4 linked regions of the Homo sapiens genome follow. The protein of the gene in region 3 purifies or fractionates together with the protein of the main gene of each other region. This does not show direct contact. Each region holds a gene or a part of one and is shown on either strand. Other genes may lie near its edges.

Region 1 (3,640 bases), on a different chromosome or scaffold from region 3:
GAAGCATCCGGCCACAAAAGTGCCCTAAAGAATTCACTGCAGTGCTCTCCATTTCCAAGGCTGAGTAGCTATTCCCAGTAAGTTAACATTTTTCTATTAAGGAGAAAACGAAACAAAACAAAAATAAAACCCACTCCAGAAAAAGGGTCAAGAGAAGAGCACTGTAGAAAGTCAAGCAGCTGAGCGCCGGCGGATCACGAAGAGCCCGCGCTGAAGCTGGCCCAGGTAGATCCTCATCTTGGTGCTGTCACTTGTCTTCCTCACCCAGATCTGCAGGGGAGAGGAAAGGGAACAAGATGAAAAGTTAAATACAGAAGAGCAAATCTCCTACACCATCAAAATATCTGCACGAGTGAGATGCAAGCAGAAGGCTGGTAGCCTCTTGCTGGAATAAACTGTCTCAACTTGTGAGGGCTTCATAAGCACCCCTGACCTCGGGCCATCTAAAGGCATGCCGCTGGGAACAGGCATCAGCCTTGAACTCGTTTCTCAGCCATCTCTCTCACACCTGTGATTACGAAAATGGAAAGCACAGCAATCTTGGGTTCCATTTCTGCCTTGATCTTAAAGATGCTTTTAAATTTGGTTTGATTACTGTGTTATCAACACTCAAGAGACATCTATTCATAAACACAAACTTTCAAATTTGGAAGTATTTTCCTTGCTCCAAGGGACTTCCATATTATACAAACTTTCAATACTTTGGTTTCCTGGCAATGAAGGCTAATGGTTGTGCAGAAAAACAGGGAAAAAATATCAACAATAGAAAAATGCCCACTAATGAGCTAAGGCCCAATTAGGATCATGAGAAGGTTGAAGCACTTCCGAGAGTCCTTCCCTCCTCACCATATCCCCCTCTCACAGACAGTATTAGATTACAGTGCATTTTACAGGGCAGATGCATTCTTCCATTGAATTGAGAATGAACTCTTGCAACAGGGGACTGCCAGGGCTGACAAAGTGCACTCAATAAGGGGCATCCTAAAGCCATGGGTGAGAAGGGGAGCTGCTGCCAGTCACCTGACCCCCTGAGCCAGGGTTACTGAGCTCTGTGTGCCAGACACCATGCTGATCAGGCTGAGCTTTTTCACCCGCAAGACAACCCTATGAAATAACTACTATCATTGGCCCCATTTTAAAGAAGAGGAAACCAAAGCTCAGCAAGGCTGAGTCACTTATCACGACGTGAATTCTGGTGTCTGACATCAAAGCCCCTGGCTCTTCTCTACTAAAGCAGTCTCTGGCTTCTTCTTGCCTGTTTTTCTGTAACATGCAATTAAATAGAGCCAAAAGCACAGTTTTTTGAAAGGTCTGCATCTCACCCAAATATACAAGTTTACAGATTTATCTCCTCCTTCCTGGACTCAGTTTTCAGGTTTTAAAAAAGCTTATTCTGTTTCATCTCAATTTCTTTAATGTGATTATTCAGCAGTATCTCTACTGCTTTAAAGTCAAATACACTGGCTTAAAAATTTAAAAAGTTAAAGACCTCACATGAAGCTAAGCCTCCAAGGGACCTTGCAGAATCATTTTAAATGAAAAACTGATCCCAAGAAAAGCTAAGTCAGGGAGTCATCCACACACTCAGAGCTACCCACCAAACCTGCTTGGAGTCAAGCTATGCTAAAGCCAAGTAGCTCCAGTGTCACCTAGAATTTGATCTGAAAAATGAGCTGGAACACTTTCAAGAAATGAGAACGGTTTCCCCATTGCCAGAGTTGCATGTCTTCAGTGCACTGAAGCTTCTCCCCTCCAGAAGACGTGTTTCAGTGTCACCATTTGTCAGATCTCACTGACACTCTATTATGTCAAGACGCGACAATATTCGGCAGAGAGAGGGGAAAAACAATCTAACTTGCATTTATATTTTTCTGAAAAATCTTGAGGTATCATAGAGGAGAATAATGCACTGGTTCTGAAGTTAGGGTCAGGTACTAGAAGGCCACATGTGCTTGTGGAACAACCCAGACAGCCAGGTGCAAATGATTACCATGAAATCGTGACACCTCTTGGCTGAGGACCAGGTCTCTCTATTAGCTTCCCTGTTCTGGTTCTGACTTGGCTTGAGGGGACTCACACGGATCCTCAGCCCAGAGAAGAATGGCATTCATTTATCTAGAAGGCTCTCCCTAACTTCTAAGTAAACAATCATTTTGCAAACTAGTCACATTTCAGGGCATTTTCAATTCAGGAAGCTGGAAGAATAGAAGAGGCTTAAGTTACTTCATAATCCAGTTTCATTACATTTACTGTGCACTGGCACGAATAAGTTACAGAGGGCAGACACATAGAAATCAATTTCTTTGCAGACATTTGTGGACTGATAAAAGATCAAGCCAATCCAGCTATTAAAGTTTTTAACTTTAACTAACAACATAAGTTACACATTGCTTATATACTCCTCATGAAAGACCACTTGGAGAACTCAGAGGGCAGTCATATCATCCTCAGGTATAACCCTCTGAGCTGACTTTAAAACCAGACCCCATCCATCCTAAAGGAGTGTCTCGAGGAGACCAAAAACCAAGGGCATAACCCTGGCAACTTGTTTTGAAGCACAATAGGACATCTCAGCTAGGAAAGACGGCAGGCAAGTGGCGTGTGGGTCGTTTCAGGCCAGCACTCACTTAGTGAGCACTTACTGGGTGCTAGACCCTGTGCCAGGTGCCTCATTCAATCCTCACAGCAAGAAACAAATCTACTGGTATGTGTGAAAGTTCTAGAGAAACAAAACCAAGATGGAGTATGCTCCACAGTCAAGCTCCATTCTCAGTAGATGGTTACCTTAAAAAGAAGCAGGAGTTGGCCAGGTGTGGTGGCTCACGCCTGTAATCCCAGCACTTTGGGAGGCCGAGCTGGGTAGACCACGGGGTCAGGAGTTCAAGACCAGCCTGACCAACGTGGTGAAACCCCATCTCTACTTAAAAAAAAATACAAAAATTAGCCGGGCGTGGTGGTGGGTGCCTGTAATCCCAGCTACTCAGGAGGCTGAGGCAGGAGAATCACTTGAACCTGGGAGGTGGAAGTTGCAGTGAGCCAAGATAGCACAACTGTACTCCAGCCTGGGCAACAGAGTGAGACTCTGTCTCAAAAAAAATAAAAATAAAAAAAAAGAAGCAGGAGTTGAATGTACAGACACCACACAGACTTGCTTTTTGTTCTTTCCTGGAATCTAGCTCCGTGGTTCCCAAATCAGTAGCTGTACCGGGAGTTCACAAATACCCCATGGAATAGACAAATCCGCATATGTTGTAGTCAAGCGAATGTAAGGACTTTTCAAGGATGATTTTGACAATGTGCAATTTCTGCCTGACTTTAGAATCTAACCCACATAGAAGACAGTACTCCACTGTACTTCCTTGGTGGCACTTTCATTTCAGGTTTGCCCTACCAACACTTCGCAGTACACATTTTGCTTCCCTAAAGGTGAGGGAGTGTGGTTCCCACCTCATTGGCTCCTACAGAACTGATCACGCAGCTCAGTTTCTGGTTGTCCTTTGACTCCAGATAGATGGCCTGGCTCTTGTGGTACCTGACAAAAACAAGGCACACATTTTTAAAAAGGGAGGGACAGAGACAGGAAGTAAAAACCAAACAAAACAAAAACACCATCACAACAAAAATTATAATTAAAGAAGTC
Region 2 (3,640 bases), on a different chromosome or scaffold from region 3:
AGGCTGAGGCAGGCGGATCACCTGAGTTCAGGAGTTTGAGACCAGGTTGGCCAACATGGTGAAATCCTGTCTCTATTAAAAATACAAAAAATTGGGCTGGGCGCGGTGGCTCATGCCTGTAATCCCATCACTTTGGAAGCCCGAGGCAGGTGGATCACAAGGTCAGGAGTTTTAAGACCAGCCTGGTCAAGATGGTGAAACCTCGTCTCCACTAAAAATACAAAAAAAAAATAACCGGACATGGTGGTGGGTGCCTGTAATCCCAGCTACTCAGAGGCTGAGGCAGAGAATTGCTTGAACCTGGGAGGCGGAGGCTGCAGTGAGCCGAGATCATGCCACTGTGCTCCAGGCTGGGCAATAGAGCAAGACTCCATTTCAAAAAAGAAATACAAAAAATGAGCCAGGCATGGTGGTGAGCGCCTGTAATCCCAGCTACTTGGGAGGCTAAGGCAGGAGAATCACTTGAACCTGGGAAGTGGAGGTTGCAGTGGGCCGAGATCCTGCCACTATACTCCAGCCTGCGCAACAGCGCAAGACTCCATCTCAAAAAAAAAAAAAAAGAAAGAAAAAGGGTACTGTGGAGCTGGGCCATGACGGCTCCACGAGAAAGCCCATGAGAAACAAATGTTCCCCAGTCAGGAGAGGGTGCTACACCCAGGACAGGTGCCACGGCCAGGGGAGCCTGGGCGAGGGGTACGTGAGACCTCTGTCTTATGCTGGCAACTTCCTGTTTGCAATTTCCCATTTGAAATCACAGAATTCTCTTAAAATGAAAAGCCAGAAAGAAAAGTAACAGGACATGTCAGATCATGAGCTGTGACCCCTAACCCCAGGCACCCCCCGGGGCCTCCCGGCAGGCTTTGGAGCCTTACTGGGCTGCTTCAGCCGCAGCTCCATGGCGGGGTCGCTGCCCTTCTCCCTGCGGCCCTCACACAGCAGCTTCTCCCGCTCCTTCTCGGTCCGATACTCCAGAAGCTGCTTCTGCGCCTGGCGGTAGATCTTCAGCAGCCTGGAGCACAGGGTCTGGTGCAGGCGCAGGAAGAAGTACCAGTTGTTGTTGGCAAAAAATAGGCTGTAGACATCGTCCAGGGGCTTGTGCGGGGCTGGGGGCGGCAGGGGTGGCTGCTCAGTGGCCGGGGCATCCCCGAAGGCCCCCTTCTCCTCTGGGGGGCTACTGTGGGGTCCTGGCGCCGGCTTCTTCCGCTCACTGGGGTCTGTGGTCTGCCCCTGGGGGCTGTCCCGGTCCTCATCAGCTGACTCCTCGGAGGCGCCCAGGTCCAGCTGCTGAGAGAAGAAGAGGCTGGGCACGAACTGGTGCAGCAGCTGGTGGATGGTGCCCTGGTCCTCCTTCTGGATGGCCGGCTGCCGCTTCACGTAGTAGCTGATGAGCGCTGCTGCGTCCTCCAGGATCTGCCGGTCCTCGTACACAAAGATGAGGTGCGGCTCGCTAGAGGGGGCACTGCGGCCCTCCGAGTGCTGCTCCTGGTGCTGTGGGGGGAAGGGCGGCCATTAGGTGGAAAGCCACCCAGCACCCAGAGGACCCCCAGTGCCCATTCACGACTCGCTGTTAACTGGGCCACCAAGGTGGATGAGCGCTGCCCAGAGCAGGATGGGTGGCGAACATCGGTGAGGCAGCAGGGCCTGGGGGGTAGGTCGCTTGCCTCAACCTCTTGTGCAGCCCCATGTGCTCCTGGTCCCCTCTCCGAAAGTGAGGCAGACCCAAGTCATCCCGGGACCCCAGACAAAGGAGCCAAGAGGATTCTGAGATGTGGGGCGGGGTTCACAGGGGGTCTGACAGCGTCAAGCCTGGGTCTGTCGCTCAGCCCAGCTCCAGGACAGAACGGGGCCCCGTGGCTCAGCATGGAGAAGCCTCTGAGGCTGACCTCCTCCTACTGAAAGCAACGGTGGCGCCTGATTCCAGCTCGACCGGGGCTGCCCACACCATGCTATCGATGAAGTCAAGGAGGCAAAGGGTGAGCCGTGACCTCTCTGCCTCTGCCCTCCATCTACTACCCGGAAGGCCTGCAACTGCTCACATCTGAAGACCTGCACGCCCATCGTCACCAAGCCCCCGCCTCCGCTGCTGTCCCCGCCAGCCCCTGCACGTGCTTGCTACCACCATCATGTCACCAGCCCTCCCACCAGCTCCCACCAGCCTGCTCCAACCACTCTCCTCACTGGGTCCAGGGTGACTTGGCCCACAGGAGCATGGTCACCCCAACTAATGCCCTTCAGGCTTTCCCAGGCTGCTCAGAAGACGCCGGCCCCTGATGTGCCCCTCCACAGCTCCTCCAGCCTCACCGCGCCAAGCTCCCTCCTGCGTGTGCAGGGCCTTTGCACATGCCCATCTGCTCTCACTCCCTGGAAAACCCTGTCCCAGGCTCACCCCTCCCCTTGGTCTTTATCTAGATCATGACTTTCATTCCCTCACACCATTAGACAATCACCCCTTCCTCCAGCCTCCCACACCACTGTCCTGGCACCCAGGGCCTCTGCTGGGCAGCCCCAACCCCCTCAGTCCAAGGCAGGGAGGCAGACGCAGCAGGGCTCTTGGGGAAAATGAGCGTGGATGCCATCTCTGCAGGCTCCCGAGGGAAGGACCGGGTCTCCTAGCAGCCTGAGGTTTCCCTTCCTCCTCCCCTGCAAGGCGGCTTAGAGGCTGGTAGGGCCAAGCACACTGACCTGGTTCCTAGGAGTCTGCACGCTCAGCCCTGCTCTGGGCTCTTCAGTGTGACCATCGCCCTCTGACTGCTTCCTAAGTCCCCCAGGTCTCATTTATGCCATAAACACTCTGAAAATTCCTTTACAGTCCCCTCTGAAGCAGGGTCCCCATGTCCATGATCTGTAACCATGCTTTGTAAATCACGTGATGGAATGGGGTTCTGACTTTGGAATTCATCAAGGACCTGCATGTGCAGAGATCTGCATATGAACCTTGGTGCCCCTCCCTTTGTCAGCCCCAGCCCCAGGGAGGGATCCAGGAACTCAGGGTCGCATTGGTGGATTTCCAGGGCTACTTCATCATCTGCACTTTGCAGACACCACAGACCCACAGAACCTATACGGGGTCTTGGGCTTGAGGATCGCCGAGGACTAGAGTGAGGAAGCCAGAGTGGTTGTGGGTGGGCCTGGGGCGAGGGTGGCCCACGGGAAGGGAGGTGGGAGGGAAGGGGGTCCCCACAGTCCCACAGGCTCTGGGAGAGGCCTTGGGCCAGCAGCCCGGCTCCTGTGGATTCCGTTTCTGTGTTGTAAAAGAAGGAGCGACCGCTCACTGTGCAGTGACAGGAGCAAGAAACCAAATCAGGTGAGGCAACACCCCCTGCCCAGGTGGGCACCAGGCTGATAACGCAGCCCGTGCCATGATCTGGGCACTGCCTGGGGAGTAGTGTGCCCTCCTAAGCCACCTCCTCAGAGTGTCCAAGGACCTTCCCGACAGCTGGCTATCACCACGCCCGGCACCCTGCCAAGCTTCCCACCTCAGGATCCTGCAAGCAGGCACTCCCTACACACAGCTACTAACAGGCCCAGCTCCTGGCAACCTGAGGGCCCCGCTGGCCTTGGTTCTATGACTCAGGCCTTGTGAGCCTGCAGTGAGGACATGCAGCCGAAAGCCTCGAACCCAATGACTCAGAGCCCTGGC
Region 3 (2,576 bases):
TGTGTAGAAAACAAAACAAAAAAGTCATAAAACTGTTTCAGATATTAGGTCTTAAAGAGAGCACACCTTCCAGGATTTTCCAGGTTCGTTTTCCCGTCAAGTCTAATCCAAACTTTGGCATTTCTATTAGGAAGTCGTTTCTTTTCTCCCATCTGCCAAGGCAGATTTACGTATGAAAAAGTGGTGACTTCTATGTAAGTCGCATCTGAAGGCTTTGGGGGTTTTGTCCATACTGATATTTTTAATGGTGTCAAGTAAAAAGCTCCATTCTGGTAACAAGGTTGTAATCACTAAAACAAAATGCCATATTCTCAAAAGGATTTCCTTACAACTCAGCTAAGTTATGGTGATGAGAAAGGATTTGCTAAATTCTTAATCATGCTGTCTAACATTTCTCACTCAAAAGGTAATAGAATCAACTAGCTCTAGTCATGAATCCAAATATTCTTAGGACAGAAGCTAACAAATATTGCACATTTACCCATCTCCAAACTCACCTTTAAACTATCTTTATACCTCAGAATGAAGGACAAAATTAATGAAAAGAGAAGTCATGTCATTATTAAAATCCTCACTATAGTGCAAATAGTAGAAATTTCCAAGGAATCTCGGAGATATTTAAGCCAACTCATTTTACAGGTGAATGACCTGACACCCAGACAAGGTGAAATGACATGCCTAAAAGTCACACAGGAGAGCTAGAAGAGAAAAAAAGCATTTTTTTTTCCCAAAACAAGCAGACAGGATTTTTCATGTTAATCAAAAAGAATCAAGATCATCAGATTAGGAAGAAATGAGGAATAAAACATACGTTACACACAGATTTAAAGAACTAGTCAATCTGCTGCCCCCAAAACCAAAACCTTCTCTAAACATATGGACATATATCCATCAAGATGCTTACCCTTCAAATATCAGAATCTTGGAAAATTCAATTTACAAATACATTAATTGCATTATGATGATGAAATAAGTTAATTAAATGTGAAAACATCAAACAGCACCAATACTAGAAGTTAAGACAGTAAATACACTATTATTTAAAATAGTCACTGATTGGGACAGAAATGAACAATAACCACTAGCAAAACCATTTAAAACAACTCTCTGACATAAAGGCAATATTTAAAGACTACTATATGCCCCTTTCCACTGATAGGCCTGTGGCTACGCATCCTGGCAGCAGGTCACATGGAAAATACTATTAATTAAGATGTATTTTTAAATTGTTCAACCTTGAGCCGTGATACTATATAACCCAAAGTTTGCCAATGTAAGCCAATGTATATTTTTGGTATGCTAACTACTCTTACCTGTCCCAATTAAAAGAAAACACAAAACAACTCCCTTATTAAGCACTAGACTAAGTATATCTACAAAGCAGCAGCAAGGCATTGACAAATGGGCTACTGACAGTGGATCAAAATGCTACTAAGCAAAAGACAGCAGCACGTACTCTCATAAGAGCACATTATTCCACATGGAATCCCAAATTACTCTTATCTCCAGTTCCTTAAACTCCTAGAAGACTAGAGATGAACAAGCCAACGTATAAATAGGACTAGGGAAAAAGCAGCTCAAATGGCATAGTGTCTGTATTTTAAAGTACCCAAGATCATTTGATGCTTAAGAGAAATCCCACTACATCTAACATTTTTTTAAGCATGTATAACTAAAATGCTAGTGAAACTTTTGTGTTTACCCAAAAAATAACATTGCAGTTTTAAGTGAAAATGAAATAGGCATGGTTTGTGAAATTTTTATAATGTTTACACCACCCTCTTCCTGTTCCCTGCTCCTTTCATCAGGTGATCTGAAGACTACCTGGTTGGAAATATTTGGTAACTCAGTGCAGAAAATTAAGGTCACAGACAAAGTACAACAACTTTTAATACACCATTAATACTAATGATTAAAAATTATTGCATAGTCTTATGCATTTACCCTAAAACATTTTCTGAAAGCAAACGAATTATATAAAAGACAAATAACCCTTTAAAATGTGGATGGCCTTTACTACCTCGATCTTCTATCCTTTTTTGTCTTTTCAGTACTTTTGTCCATTGTTTTCTCATTATCTCCCCTGCACTTTGGGCAATACCATTTCCCCTTTGGTTTATAGGTAAGTGAAACACATGAAAAGTGAAACCATTCAATTGGACACTGTTCATTGTCACATCCTATCATCTCCCCATAAGACACTTGGTTGCATAAGCAGTATGTAGGTTCATTAGGATCTATTGCAAACTCAACAGGTGAAGCTTCCCTTTCCTGCTTGGCCTTGGAGCGTTTCTTTTTCTTTGCTGACTTGGATTTCTTTTCTTTAGGTGGCTGATCATCACAGTCTTCAATCCCATTTGCCATGTGACATAAATCACGGCTTTCACTGGTCCGCTGCCTGCGGGGTCTTCTTGAAGATCTTTCTGGTTGGCTGGAATCCATCTTTGCTTTATCTGAGGCTCGTTCACTTTCAGCAGGATCTTGGAAACACTGTGAGTGTAACTCCATTTGTCTTGCCCGATTTTCCACCAATTCGAGCATTTGTGTAACAATCTGTATTTTTTCATCTCCCAATT
Region 4 (3,640 bases), on a different chromosome or scaffold from region 3:
TTTCTCAGTTCAAAATTTCCATTTGGTTCTTCTTTATATCTTCTATTTCTTTCCTGAGATTTTCTGTTTCTTCGCTGACTTTGTAATTTTTGTTTGTTTCAAGTGTGTTAGTAATTGCTCATTAGTTAGTAATTGCATTTTTATGGTGGTTGCTTTAAAATCTCTGGCAGATAATTGTAACATCTTTGTTATTTCAGTGTTACCGTTCATAGATTGTCTTTTTAAATTCAAGTTGAGATTTTTCTTGTTCTTAGCATGATGAGTGATTTTCAATTTCTTAAACCTGGACATTTTCGGTTTTATAGTAAGCCTCTGGATCTTAAATGTTGTTTTAGCTGACTTCCACTGACACTCTTCCAGCAGAGGGAGGACAGTACTGGACAGTTACTGGCAAGTGGGAAAAGCAGTCCAAGCTCCTTTTAGAAAGGAAGTAAGGGGAGAGGAGCTCCTCGTTACTTCTGGGTTGCACAGGTGTTCTAGCCCCCCTCCATGGCCTTTACTGCACACAGAAAGCATGGCCTCATGACCAATTGGCAGTGAGAAAGTCTTATCTTTCCACTAGACGTCTTCTGACACTACTCAAGCAGGACTGGAAGAGGCACCTCATTACTTCCAGGGGAGGGCAAAAGTCCAGGCTCCCCACATAGTCTTCACTGACACTGCTGGGTTGGGGGAGGGGGATGGGATCTTGTTAATGCAGGAGTAAAATTCCCAGCTTCCTAATAAGCCTTCTCTTACCCATTCCAACAGGTATTGAGGTACTTATTTAGAGCCTGCTGAGAGTTAAAATATAAGCTTCTCAATCAGCCTTAGCTGGCATATAAAGGGCCACAGTTTTTTCTGTGGTGTCTGGTTGAAATAGAGTAGATATTGTCTAAAACTTTTCTATCTTTCTAGGCTGCCCCTTTCCTAGTCCTTTGGCTACAGCAAGCAGACTTCTGTTGGCCTGTTTTATCGATGCCTGTTGGCATCTGTTGGTTGCCAAGTCTGGAATATATGTGGCAAAACAAAACAAAACAAAAACACCTAAGGAACTCACTACCATGTTGTTTCTTAGGTCCTGATGTCCATAGCCAGTGTGCCCTTTTTCTCAACACCTTTCAGAGTCTCGTGTTTGTTTTATATGTAATATCCAAGGTTTTTACTTGTTCTTAGAGGGAAGGAAAGGGAAAGCACCTGCTTCATCTTCCCCAAAGCAGGTCTTTTTTGCTCATTGTTTAACTGGGTTGTCTGTTTTCTTATTGAGGTTTGAATATTTGTTAAGTATTCTGGATTCAAGTCCTTTATTTGATATATGCCTCACAAATATTTTCTCCCAGTCTGTAACCTGTCTTTCCTGTCTATGATCAGTATTTTTTGAAGAGCAGAAGTTTTAAATTTTGAGGAATCCAATTTATCAACTTTTTTCTTTTATGGATTGCCCTTTGGTGTCATATCTGAGAAATCATCACCTATCACCTAATTACAAAGATTTTCCCCAATTTTTATTCTAGAAGTTTTGTATTTTTATGTTTGACATTTAGGCCTGTGATTCATCTTAATTTTTTCATATGGTATGAGGTATGAATCCTCATACCTCATGTTTTGCATATGGATACACAATCATTCCAGCATCATTTGTTGAACATATTACCTTTCCTCCATTTTATTGCCTTCGAATCTTAATTAAAAATCAGTTGTCCATATATTTGTGTCTATTTCTAGACTCTGTTTTGCTGATTTATCTATCTAGACCAGCATGATTACTGTAGTTTCTCATAATTCTTGAAACCAAGCATAGTGACTCTTCCAAATTTGTTTTTATCTTTCAAAGTTCTTTTGGCTATTCTAGGTTCTTGTGCTTTCTATACGAATTTTAGAATCAGCATGTCAACTCTTACAGGGAAAAAAGGTCTGCTTGGGTATTGACTGGGATTGTACTGACTTTATAGATCAACTTGGGGATAACTGATATTTTAATAATATTTAGTCTTCCAAACCACGAACAAGGTATATTTCATTTATTTAGGCCTTCTTTAAATTTATCTCAGCAATGTTTTAAAGTTTTCACTGTATAGGTTGTGTATGTATGTATTACTCAGCTTGGGCTGCCAGAACAAAAATCCATAGGCTGTGTGGCTTAAATAAGAATCATTTATTCTTCACAGTTCTGCAGGCTGGGAAATCCAAGATCAATGTGCCAGCTGATTCAGTTCCCTGGTGAGGGCTTTCTTCCTAGTTTGCCAACGGCTGACTTCTCACTGTGTCCTCACACGGCAGAGAGAATCAGAAAGCCTCTGGCATCTCCTTAAAAGGGCACTAATCGTATCATGAGGGTTCCATCTTCATAATCTCATCTACACCTAATTACTTCCCAAAAGCCCCATTTCCAAACACCATCACATTGGGGGTTAGGACTTCAACATATAAATTTTGGGAGTCACAATTCAGTCCATAGCAACATATTTGTCAGTCTTATCCCAAAGTACTATCATATGTTTTGAGATGCTATTACAAATTGTTTCTTATTTGCAATTTCCAAGGGTTTATTATTATGAAATGCATATACAATTCATTTTTGTATGTTGATATTCCATACTACAATTTTTCTAAATTCACCTTACTTCTAATAGCTTTCTGTAGATTCCATCTGATCTCTACATAGATGATCATGTCATTTACAAGAGTTTTAATTCTTTCCAATCTAGGTGTTTTTTATTTCTCTTTCTTAACTTACTGCATCAGAAAGAACCTGCAGTACAATGATCAGAGAAGTAATGAGATAATCCTTACCTAATATCTGATTTTAAGAGTAAAGCATTCAGACTCTCACTATTAAGTATGAGGTTAGCTGTAGGTTTTTCATAGAGGCCTTTTATCAGGTTAAGAAAGTTCCCTTCCATTCCTAGTTTTGAGAGTTTTTATGAGATATGGATGTAGAATTTTGCCAAATACTTTTCCCTGCATCTACTGAGAAGATAATATGCTTTTTGTCTTTTTGTTTGTTTTCTTTTTTTTAGTTTGTGAATGTGGGGAATTACAATGATTCATTTTCTAATGTTAAACTACCTTTTCATTCCTGGGATTCAGTCCATTTGATTAAGATGTCCTTTTTAAAAAATTACTAGATTTGACTTAGTAAAATGTTGTTTAAATTTTTTGATTTTATGTTCATGAGAGATGTTCAGTAGTTTTCTTTTAATTTCTTTGTCTTATTTTTCTATCACAGCAATATTAGCTTCATTAGCTTCATGAGGTGGTGAAGATTTCCTCCTCTTCAATTTTCTGGAAGAGTATCTCTAGATTGGTATTATTCCTTCTTTAATGTTTGGTAGAATTCACCAGTAAAACCATCTTGGCCTGGAGTTTTCTGTGTAGGAAGGTTTTTAACTATCAATTCAATTTCTGTAGTAGACACAGGGCTATTCAGATGATCTACTTCTTCTTGAGTAAAGTTTAATAGTTTTGTCTTTCAAAGATTTATCCATTTCATCTAAGCTGTCAAATGTATGAGCATAAAGTTATTCATAAAACTGCCTTATCTTTTTAACAGCTACAGAATCTGTAGTGATGACATCTGTCTCATTCCTGACATTTTTATTTGTCTTTTTTCCCTCATCAGTCTGACTAAAGGTTTATCAATTTTATTGATCTTCTCAGA

The links. The genes of interacting proteins can lie anywhere in the genome.
Region 1: the proteins of ING2 (region 3) and SUDS3 purify together in Homo sapiens (affinity purification with mass spectrometry; 3 studies listed by BioGRID and IntAct, with this or other methods). This does not show direct contact.
Region 2: the proteins of ING2 (region 3) and SIN3B purify together in Homo sapiens (affinity purification with mass spectrometry; 2 studies listed by BioGRID and IntAct, with this or other methods). This does not show direct contact.
Region 4: the proteins of ING2 (region 3) and TARS3 purify together in Homo sapiens (affinity purification with mass spectrometry; 2 studies listed by BioGRID and IntAct, with this or other methods). This does not show direct contact.

What each region holds. Positions count from the first base shown.
Region 1 is NC_000012.12:118,410,965-118,414,604, reverse strand, and holds part of SUDS3 (sin3 histone deacetylase corepressor complex component SDS3), read right to left. Parts: intron 3,533-3,640; coding exon 3,448-3,532; intron 271-3,447; coding exon 172-270; 3' UTR 1-171.
Region 2 is NC_000019.10:16,867,308-16,870,947, reverse strand, and holds part of SIN3B (paired amphipathic helix protein Sin3b), read right to left. Parts: intron 1,489-3,640; coding exon 873-1,488; intron 1-872.
Region 3 is NC_000004.12:183,510,393-183,512,968, reverse strand, and holds the end of ING2 (inhibitor of growth protein 2), read right to left. Parts: coding exon 2,017-2,576; 3' UTR 540-2,016; downstream 1-539. UniProt on the Homo sapiens protein: Seems to be involved in p53/TP53 activation and p53/TP53-dependent apoptotic pathways, probably by enhancing acetylation of p53/TP53. Component of a mSin3A-like corepressor complex, which is probably involved in deacetylation of nucleosomal histones.
Region 4 is NC_000015.10:101,679,424-101,683,063, forward strand, and holds part of TARS3 (threonine--tRNA ligase 2, cytoplasmic), read right to left. Parts: intron 1-3,640. UniProt on the Homo sapiens protein: Catalyzes the attachment of threonine to tRNA(Thr) in a two-step reaction: threonine is first activated by ATP to form Thr-AMP and then transferred to the acceptor end of tRNA(Thr).